Homo sapiens: one gene and its partner. The protein of the gene in region 1 interacts with the protein of each later gene in a biochemical or structural test. Each region holds a gene or a part of one and is shown on either strand. Other genes may lie near its edges.

Region 1 (3,399 bases):
TTTAGCCAAGTGGGGGACAGCACCCCAGGACCCCAGGCACCTGGCCTCTGCCTCCTGCCCCTCCACGTCCACGGGACAAGCTCATAGGCCAAGGCCATGGCCGTATGCTGTCACAGTGCCATTTCCCTCCCTGTCCCCGACGGTGACCCGGCCTGGGTGCTACTGCCCTCGCCCACCGCGCCTCTTTCCCCCAGGGCCGCGTGCTCCACCCAGAGCAGCACCGTGTGGTGAGCGTGCGGGAGTGTGCCCGCTCCCAGGGCTTCCCTGACACCTACCGGCTCTTCGGCAACATCCTGGACAAGCACCGGCAGGTCAGTGGGGCGGCGCCCGCTGGGTCTGGACAGGAAGGAGGCTTCTGTGCCTGTCACCAGGTGGGGCTGGGGCCAGCGCAGTCACTTCCGGGAGGACGCCTGCTGGCTGCCGGGTAGCCCCATCACTCTCAGTGGGAAGACGGCCCACAGGAGGGACAGTGCTGAGACATCCGAGTCAGGCTGCGTCCCTATGCTGGTTCCTTACTGTTTGTTTTTGAGGCAGAGATTGAGCCAGAAGGACAGTCCGTCGCGCTAAAGGAGCAGGCTAAAACCCATGGTGGCGACAGCTCACTCGCTGTAGGTTCAAATGAACTAGCACCTTAATTCCTACCTGCTTCTCAGGTGTCGGGTTGGCTTAACAAGTTAGTCTATGAGTTAGTCTCAGTTAAGTGTATTTTCATCATAGGGCACGCGCATTGCTTAAAAACCAGTGTCCACGGTTCTTGTGAAAACCACATTTCACCCCTCCCCCCGAATCTGGTTCTCGGGAAGCAGCCACTCTCTCTTTTTTTTTTTTTTTTTTGAGATGGAGCTTTGTTCTTTCGCCCAGGCTGGAGTGAAGTGGCGTGATCTCAGCTCACCGCAACTTCCACCCCCCTGGTTTTAAGTGATTCTCCTGCCTCAGCCTCTTGAGTAGCTGGGATTACAGTCATGTGCTACCACACCCGGCTAATTTTTGTATTTTTAGTAGAGATGGGGTTTCACCATGTTGGCCAGGCTGGTCCCGAACTCTTGACCTCAGGTGATCCGCCTGCCTCGGCCTCCCAAAGTGCTGGGATTACAGGCATGAGCCACTGCGCCGGCCAGGGAAGCAGCCACTCTTAACTGGGAGCGAAACGTGTCTAGGTGGCCCATTTGTCTTTTTTTTTTTTTTTTCTGAGACAGGGTCTCACTCTGTCCCCTAGGCTGGAGTGCAGTGACATGATCTCTGCCCACTGCAACCTCCACCTCCAGGGTTCAAGTGATTCTCCTGCCTCAGCCTCCTGAGGTGCTGGGATTACAGGCATGTGCCACCATGCCCAGCTAATTAGTTTTTGTACTTTTAGTAGAGACGGGGTTTCACCATGTTGGCGAGGCTGCTCTCGAACTCCTGGCCTCAACTAATCCACCTGCCTTGGCCTCCCAAAGTGCTGGGATTACAGGCGTGAGCCACTGCTCCCAGCCCCACGTGTCTTTGTCTCAAGTCTTTCTGAAGCTCTTCAAAGGCCCAGTGACTTGTGGCTGTGGGGCGGGATGATGGGCCAGTTGGAGGGTCCAAGGATCTTGTGCTGGAAGGGTTTTGGGCCCATGTGAGCAGGACCAGAACCCTTCCCCAAGGGGTGCAATGCCCAGGTTGTCCTCCATCTGAGCAGGGGCTGGCAGTACACCTGCCCCCGGGCCTTGGGCCTGGGTGTCCACATCAGGCATTGCCCTTCTCCCCTCCTGCAGGTGGGCAATGCCGTGCCACCGCCCCTGGCCAAAGCCATTGGCTTGGAGATCAAGCTTTGTATGTTGGCCAAAGCCCGAGAGAGTGCCTCAGGTATGGTGGGGTGGGCCAGGCTTCCTCTGGGGCCTGACTGCCCTCTGGGGGTACATGTGGGGGCAGTTGCTGGCCACCGTTTTGGGCTCTGGGACTCAGGCGGGTCACCTACCCACGTTCGTGGCCCCATCTTTCTCAAGGGGCTGCTGTGAGGATTGAGTGAGTTGCACGTGTCAAGTGCTTAGAGCAGGCGTGCTGCACACAGCAGGCCTTTGGTCAGGTTGGCTGCTGGGCTGGCCCTGGGGCCGTTTCCCTCACTCCTGCTCGGTGAATTTGGCTCAGCAGGCACCTGCCTCAGCTGCTCACTTGAGCCTCTGGGTCTAGAACCCTCTGGGGACCGTTTGAGGAGTGTTCAGTCTCCGTGAACGTTCCCTTAGCACTCTGCCACTTATTGGGTCAGCTGTTAACATCAGTACGTTAATGTTTCCTGATGGTCCATGTCTGTTACTCGCCTGTCAAGTGGCGTGACACCGGGCGTGTTCCCCAGAGTGACTTTTCCTTTTATTTCCCTTCAGCTAAAATAAAGGAGGAGGAAGCTGCTAAGGACTAGTTCTGCCCTCCCGTCACCCCTGTTTCTGGCACCAGGAATCCCCAACATGCACTGATGTTGTGTTTTTAACATGTCAATCTGTCCGTTCACATGTGTGGTACATGGTGTTTGTGGCCTTGGCTGACATGAAGCTGTTGTGTGAGGTTCGCTTATCAACTAATGATTTAGTGATCAAATTGTGCAGTACTTTGTGCATTCTGGATTTTAAAAGTTTTTTATTATGCATTATATCAAATCTACCACTGTATGAGTGGAAATTAAGACTTTATGTAGTTTTTATATGTTGTAATATTTCTTCAAATAAATCTCTCCTATAAACCACCCTGGGTGGGTATTCGTGATTTGCACGGGACTTCTGGCTGAGGTCAGACAGGAACAAGCTCTTCCATGCTGAAGGCGACCCACGTGGAGTTTGAAGCTAGCACGTTTGAAGCTAGACACTCCGTGTGTCTGTCTGTGTTTGTTCAGAACTGAGTCACGTGAGTTGATCCCCATGACATGCAAATGGAACTTGCTAGTGTAGCTTCCAGGAAAGCCTTTTAAAGGAAGTCTTGGCTGGCCTTCCCCGTGGCTGGTAGGCCTTCTTTGGTCTGAAGTGGGTTGTGATGCCTGGCAGTGGAGCAGCCATCCTGTGACCATGAGGCAGAGCTCTGTGCTGCAACTGGTGGAATAAGGAGAGAGAAGTCACCACTGAGCTGCCCTTGGAGCCCCGGCCACCCCATCCCCAAGCAAAACCTCTTTAGTTGGGTTTTTTTTCTTTCCAAAGAATTTTTTTTTTTTTTTGAGACAGTCTTGCTCTGTTGCTCAGGCTGTAGTGCAGTGGGGCAGTCTCCGTTCAATGCAGCCTCTGCCTCCTGGGTTCAAGAAATTCTGCCTCAGCCTCCCGAGTAGCTGGGATTGTAGGCGCCCATCACCACGCCCAGCTAATTTTTGTATTTTTAGTAGAGACGATGTTTCACCATGTTGGCCAGGCTGGTCTTGAAATCCTGACATGATCCGCCCACCTGGACCTCCCAAAG
Region 2 (7,291 bases), on another chromosome or scaffold:
ATGACTACTCTTTCAGGGAGAAGGCTTTACTTGTTACCTAACTTAATATTAGGAAGAATCTTCACATTGTGGGAACTAGAATTGGATGTTTTCTGACCAGTGTTTCTTAAATCTTGCTTTCTGATTTTTTTCTCATTATCCTGCTCTGATTTTTCTACCCTTGTAAACAGAGCCAGTGAGTGGAGGACTATATGGTATTGATGACACGGAGCTGATGGGTGCAGAGGACAAGCTGCCTCTTGAGGACAGCCCTGTGATTTCTGCCCTTGATTGCCCTTCCCTCAATAATGCTACTGCCTTCAGTCTCCTGGCAGATGATAGTCAAACATCAACCTCTATCTTTGCCAGTCCCACCTCTCCACCTGTCCTAGGGGAGTCTGTCCTGCAAGGTAAGTGACGGTAGGTAGGACAAAGAAAGACCTTTACCTGAGAAAAGATGAGAGAATAAGTTTCATAGTTAGGGCCTTAAGAGTGGGAAATCTGGCTGGGCGCAGTGGCTCACGCCTGTAATCTCAGCACTTCGGGAGGCCGAGGCGGGTGGATCACCTGAGATCAGGAGTTTGAGACCACCTGGCCAACATGGTGAAACCCCGCCTCTACTAAAAATACAAAAATTAGCCAGGTGTGTTGGCACATGCCTGTAATCCCAGCTACCTGGGAGGCTGAGGCAGGAGAATCGCTTGGCCCCAGGAGGCAGAGGTTGCAGTGAGCCGAGATTGTGTCGTTGCACTCCAACCTGGGCAACAGAGCAAGACTCCATCTCAAAAAAAAAGTAGGAAAGCAAGAGCACCTTGCTGGGAGCTGAGGGGCTATGGGATAGTGTATGGTGGAACTAAAAGAGGTATAGGCTGCTATACTCCGACCTGTGCCCTCTGCTTTGAAGAACTTGTGAGACTTGGAATTTGTAGGGAGAAGGAGGCTAGAAGCTTTATTGGCACCAGGTAAAAGGTATTTCTTCACACAATGACATCTGTAGCAACTTTACCCTTTAATCCTCATGATTGGTTGGGAGAAAAAGCTACTTCTTTTTCCAACCCTAGGGAAGACCCCTTGAAGTAACCCTGTTTAGCTTGGTCCAGGGTTGACTGAGTAGATTCTCTTGTTTTATGTGATGCCTTTTTTTTTTTTAAAGCCTATCCTGTCCCTTTGGATTCTAGATAACAGCTTTGACCTGAATAATGGTAGTGACGCTGAACAGGAAGAAATGGAAACTCAATCTTCAGACTTCCCACCATCCCTGACCCAGCCAGCTCCTGATCAGTCATCCACTATTCAGCTACATCCAGCAACCTCACCAGCAGTCTCGCCAACAACCTCCCCAGCAGTCTCCCTAGTGGTTTCTCCAGCAGCCTCCCCAGAAATCTCTCCAGAAGTTTGTCCCGCAGCTTCTACAGTTGTCTCTCCAGCAGTCTTCTCAGTGGTCTCTCCAGCTTCCTCAGCAGTCCTCCCAGCAGTCTCCTTAGAAGTCCCGTTGACGGCTTCAGTGACATCCCCAAAAGCCTCTCCCGTAACTTCCCCAGCAGCTGCCTTTCCAACAGCCTCCCCAGCAAATAAGGATGTCAGCAGCTTTCTAGAAACCACTGCTGACGTGGAAGAGATCACTGGAGAAGGACTCACTGCTTCTGGTAGTGGTGAGTATCCAGATTCTATTCTATCCCTGTCTGGTTCCAAGAAACTTTTCTGTCCCATGTTGTAGTTAGCCTTTCCCTATTGGCCTATTGTTTAAATATTTTGCTTGAACTCTTAACTTGGGTATCCCTTCCTCCCAAGGTGATGTCATGAGGAGACGTATTGCTACCCCAGAAGAAGTTCGTCTTCCCCTCCAACATGGGTAAATGCTCTAGTTTGCTACATTTATTGACCTTGACAAGTTTAATGCACAACTCTAGAAAGAAGGGAATGCCTCTTTTCCTCTGAGGTGGGGGAGGAATGGGCCAGACAAGAGTAGATTACAGGACAGTTATCTGCAGTGATAATGTTTCTTGGCATGAGATTCCTAGGTTTTCCTTCTTCTCTCAAGGTCTGTCTTCCATCACCTATTCTTTTTTCATCTTGTAGTGACTCAATTTTGCCCAAGGAGCTCCAGCTATTATCTTTTCCAAACCCTAGGGCTCACATCCAAACCAGCTGGCTTGTCCTATTTCTGTGGACAAGGGATAGTAATGAATGAGGAGTGACTTAGTACTAATGAATTGAGGTGGTTTTGTTGTTTTAATGCTCTTAGGAGAGGTAAGGGCAGGAACAGTACATGACCAAAATGAACAAACTAGCTGACACCAGGGCCTTGTGGAAATAACTGCCTTCCTGGATCTTCCCCACCCCTGCCCCTCAAGGCTACTTGTGGTCACCAAGTCTGAGTACTGCTTAAAATTTTGAGAGAAAGATTAGAGTTAGTCTTAGAACTAACTCTGACTAACTTTGTGTTCTGCTCAGAACACAGAGTTCCTAACTAAACCCTGGCATATTGAGTCTTTTCATGGAATCAGCAGCAAATTTATTTTTCTGCTTGCCTCCCTGCCCTTTGTCTTCTGTCTTTATTCCCCTTAGGTCTTTATCCTCTTTACTGGAAATCCAGTAACTGCCCTGAATGGCTCAGGGAGGGGTTTCTGGCAGCTTATCTCACTGATTTTGTAAAGGAGGGATGGAGATCTCTCTGAGCTTGTGCAGTTTGGTGTAGTGCTTTTCTCCTAAGGGCCTTGATGTATTTGCTGGAGCTCAAGTCAGCCTTCTAGCCAAGCTTATCTCTCTTGGTGCTTTTGCATCTGCATGCAGTTCTAGAGATACAAATGTGGGGAGGGCCATCTGCTCAGAGGGCTTCGCGCTTAGGTGGCATGGGAGTGGGTAGGGGTGTGACCTGGCGGCAGGGCCCATGTGCTTCTCTGGCAGGTGGCGGAGAGAGGTGCGCATCAAGAAGGGCAGCCACCGATGGCAGGGGGAGACCTGGTATTATGGCCCCTGTGGGAAGAGGATGAAGCAATTTCCAGAAGTGATCAAGGTAATGTAGCTTTTTTTAAAGGACTGCTTTCTTGGGCTCAGTGGACTCCTTTCCACTGCCCAAGACTCCGTTCTTGGGCTCAGTGACAACAGGCTGGCATTGTCTGCTCTGGGCCTGTTCTGCTTATGCCTTTGCTGGCCAAAGACATGGTAGGATCCAACTTTATTAATGTTACTTTACTTCTTCCTCTTAGTACCTGAGCCGCAACGTGGTACACAGTGTCCGCCGAGAGCACTTCAGCTTCAGTCCCCGTATGCCTGTTGGAGATTTCTTTGAAGAAAGAGACACGCCAGAGGTGCAGACCCAAGGGTTAAATATGCTTTTGTCCCTGAGGAAGAGTTGGTGGACAAGCTGCAGCTTCCTCTCGTGGGGTTTGAAGGTTCTGGGGCATTGAATGGTTCCGAGGGCCTCGTGGCCTGCACTGATTCCTTACTACTGTAACAGTCTCCCTTGCTACCTTAGGGCTTGCAGTGGGTGCAGCTCTCAGCAGAGGAGATCCCGTCGAGGATTCAGGCAATTACTGGCAAACGGGGTCGACCTCGAAACACTGAGAAGGCTAAGACTAAGGAAGTCCCCAAGGTGAAACGGGGTCGAGGTCGGCCACCTAAGGTCAAAATCACTGAGCTATTGAACAAGACAGACAACCGCCCCCTAAAGAAACTGGAGGCCCAAGGTACAGTGGTATTTCTTACTTTGGGATTCTGCTCCCTCCATGAGGTATCTAAAATGTTGATGAATTGCTAATACCTGGATTTCCCAGGAGTGTAACTAACATTATCTGGGAAGAATGAATCTGAATCAGCTTCTCCTTGGAATCCAGCATCCTAGTCCCAGCGCTTGGGAATACTACTTTTCCAGCCATGGTCTTTCTTGAGTTGCTGTTACCAGTGAAACCTTGGGCTGCCCCCAGGTGTGTTTAGCCCAGAGGAGAGGACTTTCTTGCCCTTTCTTTCCATCTTTTAGCTCCTTATCATATACTGGTTCAGTTGTACCCTTTTACCTTACCCATTTCTACTATCATGGAGGTTCAGAATTCACATCTGAATTCAAAAGATAATTGGGAGCCAGGCATGGTGGTGTGTGCTTAATAATCCCAGTTACCCAGGAGGCTGAGGCAGGCAGCAGAGGATCACTTGAGCCCAGGAGTTTGGAGGCTACAGTAAACTTCAGTTGTGTTATTGCATTCCAACCTGGGCAACAGAGCAAGGCCCTGTTTCTAAAAAAAATAATAGGCCGGGCACAGTGTCTCACACCTGTAATCCCAGCACTTCGGAAGGCCAAGGCGGGCGGATCGTGAGGTCAAGAGATTGAGACCATCCTGGCGAACATGGTAAAACCCCGTCTCTACTAAAAATACAAAACAAAAAATTAGCTGGGCGTGGTGGTGTGTGCCTGTAGTCCCACCTACTTGGGAGGCTGAGGCAGGAGAATAGCTTGAACCTGGGAGGTGGAGGTTTCAGTAAGCTGAGATTGCGCCACTGCACTCCAGCTTGGTGATAGAGCTAGACTCTGTCTCAAAAAAAAAAAAAAAAAAAAAAAAAGCCAGGCACGGTGGCTCACGCCTGTAATCCCACCACTTTGGGAGACTGAGGAGGGCAGATCACCTGAGGTCGGGAGTTCAAGACCAGCCTGACCAACATGAAGAAACCCTGTCTCTACTATAAATACAAAATTAGCCAGGCATGGTGGCGCATGCCTGTAATCCCAGCTACTCGGGAGGCTGAGGCAGGAGAATGGCTTGAACCCAGGAGGCAGAGGTTGCAGTGAGCTGAGATCACACCATTGCACTCCAGCCTGGGCAACAAGAGTGAAACTCCATCTCAAAATAATAATAATAATATAATAATAATAATAGGCACTGTTTTAGTGGATGGACAGGTGAGAAATACCTACATTTTTCAGTAAATAGTGTGTTTACCCTGGTGTAGTGTGAAGAATGTGAAAAAACTTAGTCTTTTGATTTTCACTCAGACATCTAGCCGTGTCATGTTTCAACCAAATGACCTAGAACAAGTCTCATTTTGTTTTTTTTTTTTTGAGACAGAGTCTTACTCTGTCACCCAGGATGGAGTGCAGTGGCACGATCTTGGCTCACTACAAGCTCTGCCTCCTGGATTCACCCCATTCTCCTGCCTCGGCCTCCCGAGTAGCTGGGACTACAGGTGCACGCCACCACACCTGGCTAATTTTTTGTATTTTTAGTAGAGACGGGGTTTCACCATGTTAGCCAGGATGGTCTCGATCTCCTGACCTCGTGATCCGCCCACCTCGACCTCTCAAAGTGCTGGGATTACAGGTGTAGCCCCCACGCCTGGCCCTTTTTTTTTTTTTTTCCAGATGGAGTTTTGCTCTTGTTGCCCAGGCTGGAGTGCAATGGCGCGATCTTGGCTCACCGCAACCTCCCAGGTTTAAGCGATTCTCCTGCCTCAGCCTCCAGAGTAGCTGGGATTACAGGCATATGCCACCACGCCCAGCTAATTTTGTATTTTTAGTAGAGATGGGGTTTCTCCATGTTGGTCAGGCTGGTCTCGAACTCCTGACCTCAGGTGATCCGCCTGCTTCAGCCTCCCAAAGTGCTGGGATTACAGGTGTGAGCCACTGCACCCAGCTAAGTCTCATATTTTAATCAAAGCCTTAGGTAGTTCATCTGCCCATAATATCTGTCTTAGAGGGTTGTCACGTAGACATGTGGTGGCGTTTCTATACCAGAAACAAAATAATAAATATTGTCATGTCAGGGCCAGGCACGGTGGCTCACGGCTGTAATCCCAGCTCTTTGAGAGGCTGAGACCAGCGGATCATGAGGTCAGGCAATCAAGACCGTCATGGCTAAAACGGTGAAACTCCGCTTGTACTAAAAATACTAAAAATTAACTGGGCGTGGTGGCACGCGCCTGTAGTCCCAGCTACTGGGGTGGCTGAGGCAGGAGAATCGCTTGAACCTGGGAGGTGGAGATTGCAGTGAGCCGAGATTGTGCCATTGCACTTCAGCCTGGGCGACAGAGTGAGACTCCGTGTCAAAAAATATATATATGTATATATAGTCATGTCAGAAACATCAATTATGAAATACTCTTGTTTGCAGAATTATACTTCCACAAGTCTTCCCGAAAGGAAGAAATTCAGAACTTTTAGTGAAGCAAGACATGGAGCTGAGCATGATCAATAACTATGTCAGTGATTCTTTTGAGGTGTCCACTGTGTGGGCCTTTTTTCTGGCACACCCTTGGTTAATCAGTGCTTCTAACTACTACCCTCTTTCCCTGGCAGTTTGGCTTGCTGTATCCTTTCTCTGCTTTCTGCTCTAAAATCAGTCCGTGGGTTTCTGCTCTTGTCAGGTATCCTGGGAGAGAGATTGGCTCCAAGGCTACTCTGCCATTGTGGCCTCTTTTCTATCAGCAGGACACCTTCTAAAGCAGTCTGATTGGAGCCAGGGGCTGGTGCTTCTGGGCAGGAGATGTCATTTGAGTTCTTTGTGCCACCCCCATAGCAGGTGCCTCTCCTACATTTTTTCCCCCAATGTTTTATTATGTATACTTAAAAAAAAAAAAAGCTACTCTAGATTCTTCAGGGAGCTGCTTGGGAGGCCAGCTTTGAGACGGGCATGTGTTGCCCTGGATGCTAGAGAACTGCCTTCCTGCCTCACTTGTTTCATTTTTCTTTCTGCTCTCACAGAAACATTGAATGAGGAGGATAAAGCAAAGATTGCTAAAAGCAAGAAGAAGATGAGGCAGAAGGTTCAACGGGGAGAGTGTCAGACTACTATCCAAGGGCAGGTGAGGGACATCAGAGAGATGAAACAGTAGGTTAATTTTTCCTACAACTTACTTCATCTTTTATTTTCATTTCCCACATCCGTCACTCCCTGTGTAGCAGCATATCTTCATTACCCTGAAATTTCTTGCACTTGATTTAGAGAATTGGGTTTGTTCAAAAATAACGTGGGCATCTCTAGGGTGAGAGAATTAATCCATTGCCAACCCCTCATTCCATCTCTCACCTCTCCTCCCCAGCACCCTTGTCTGTTTTTGAATCCTAGCCCAAGCAGAGATGCTTTCAGAGTTTGAGGAGAAATGACTTCCCTTATGGTTTACAGGCCAGAAATAAGCGGAAACAAGAGACCAAGAGCTTAAAGCAGAAGGAAGCTAAGAAGAAATCCAAGGTAGGTGCATGTACAAACTTGCCAAGTATAATTTCGAAGCCACTAAACTGATTTTGCAGGACATGTACATCAGTCTTGTTTTATAGTGAGATTTCTGGGCTGTGAGGTTGGGAGGACTGGGACCAGGGAAGGAT

The links.
Region 2: the proteins of DNMT1 (region 1) and BAZ2A form a complex in vitro, tested with the Homo sapiens proteins (one study listed by BioGRID).

Annotation. Positions count from the first base shown.
Region 1 is NC_000019.10:10,132,648-10,136,046, reverse strand, and holds the end of DNMT1 (DNA (cytosine-5)-methyltransferase 1), read left to right. Parts: intron 1-194; coding exon 195-311; intron 312-1,739; coding exon 1,740-1,830; intron 1,831-2,345; coding exon 2,346-2,380; 3' UTR 2,381-2,701; downstream 2,702-3,399. UniProt on the Homo sapiens protein: Methylates CpG residues. Preferentially methylates hemimethylated DNA. Associates with DNA replication sites in S phase maintaining the methylation pattern in the newly synthesized strand, that is essential for epigenetic inheritance.
Region 2 is NC_000012.12:56,606,113-56,613,403, reverse strand, and holds part of BAZ2A (bromodomain adjacent to zinc finger domain protein 2A), read left to right. Parts: intron 1-170; coding exon 171-389; intron 390-1,157; coding exon 1,158-1,631; intron 1,632-1,770; coding exon 1,771-1,831; intron 1,832-2,864; coding exon of another isoform or gene 2,865-2,886; coding exon 2,887-2,995; intron 2,996-3,188; coding exon 3,189-3,290; intron 3,291-3,457; coding exon 3,458-3,668; intron 3,669-5,975; exon of another isoform or gene 5,976-6,488; intron 6,489-6,670; coding exon 6,671-6,771; intron 6,772-7,091; coding exon 7,092-7,157; intron 7,158-7,291. UniProt on the Homo sapiens protein: Regulatory subunit of the ATP-dependent NoRC-1 and NoRC-5 ISWI chromatin remodeling complexes, which form ordered nucleosome arrays on chromatin and facilitate access to DNA during DNA-templated processes such as DNA replication, transcription, and repair.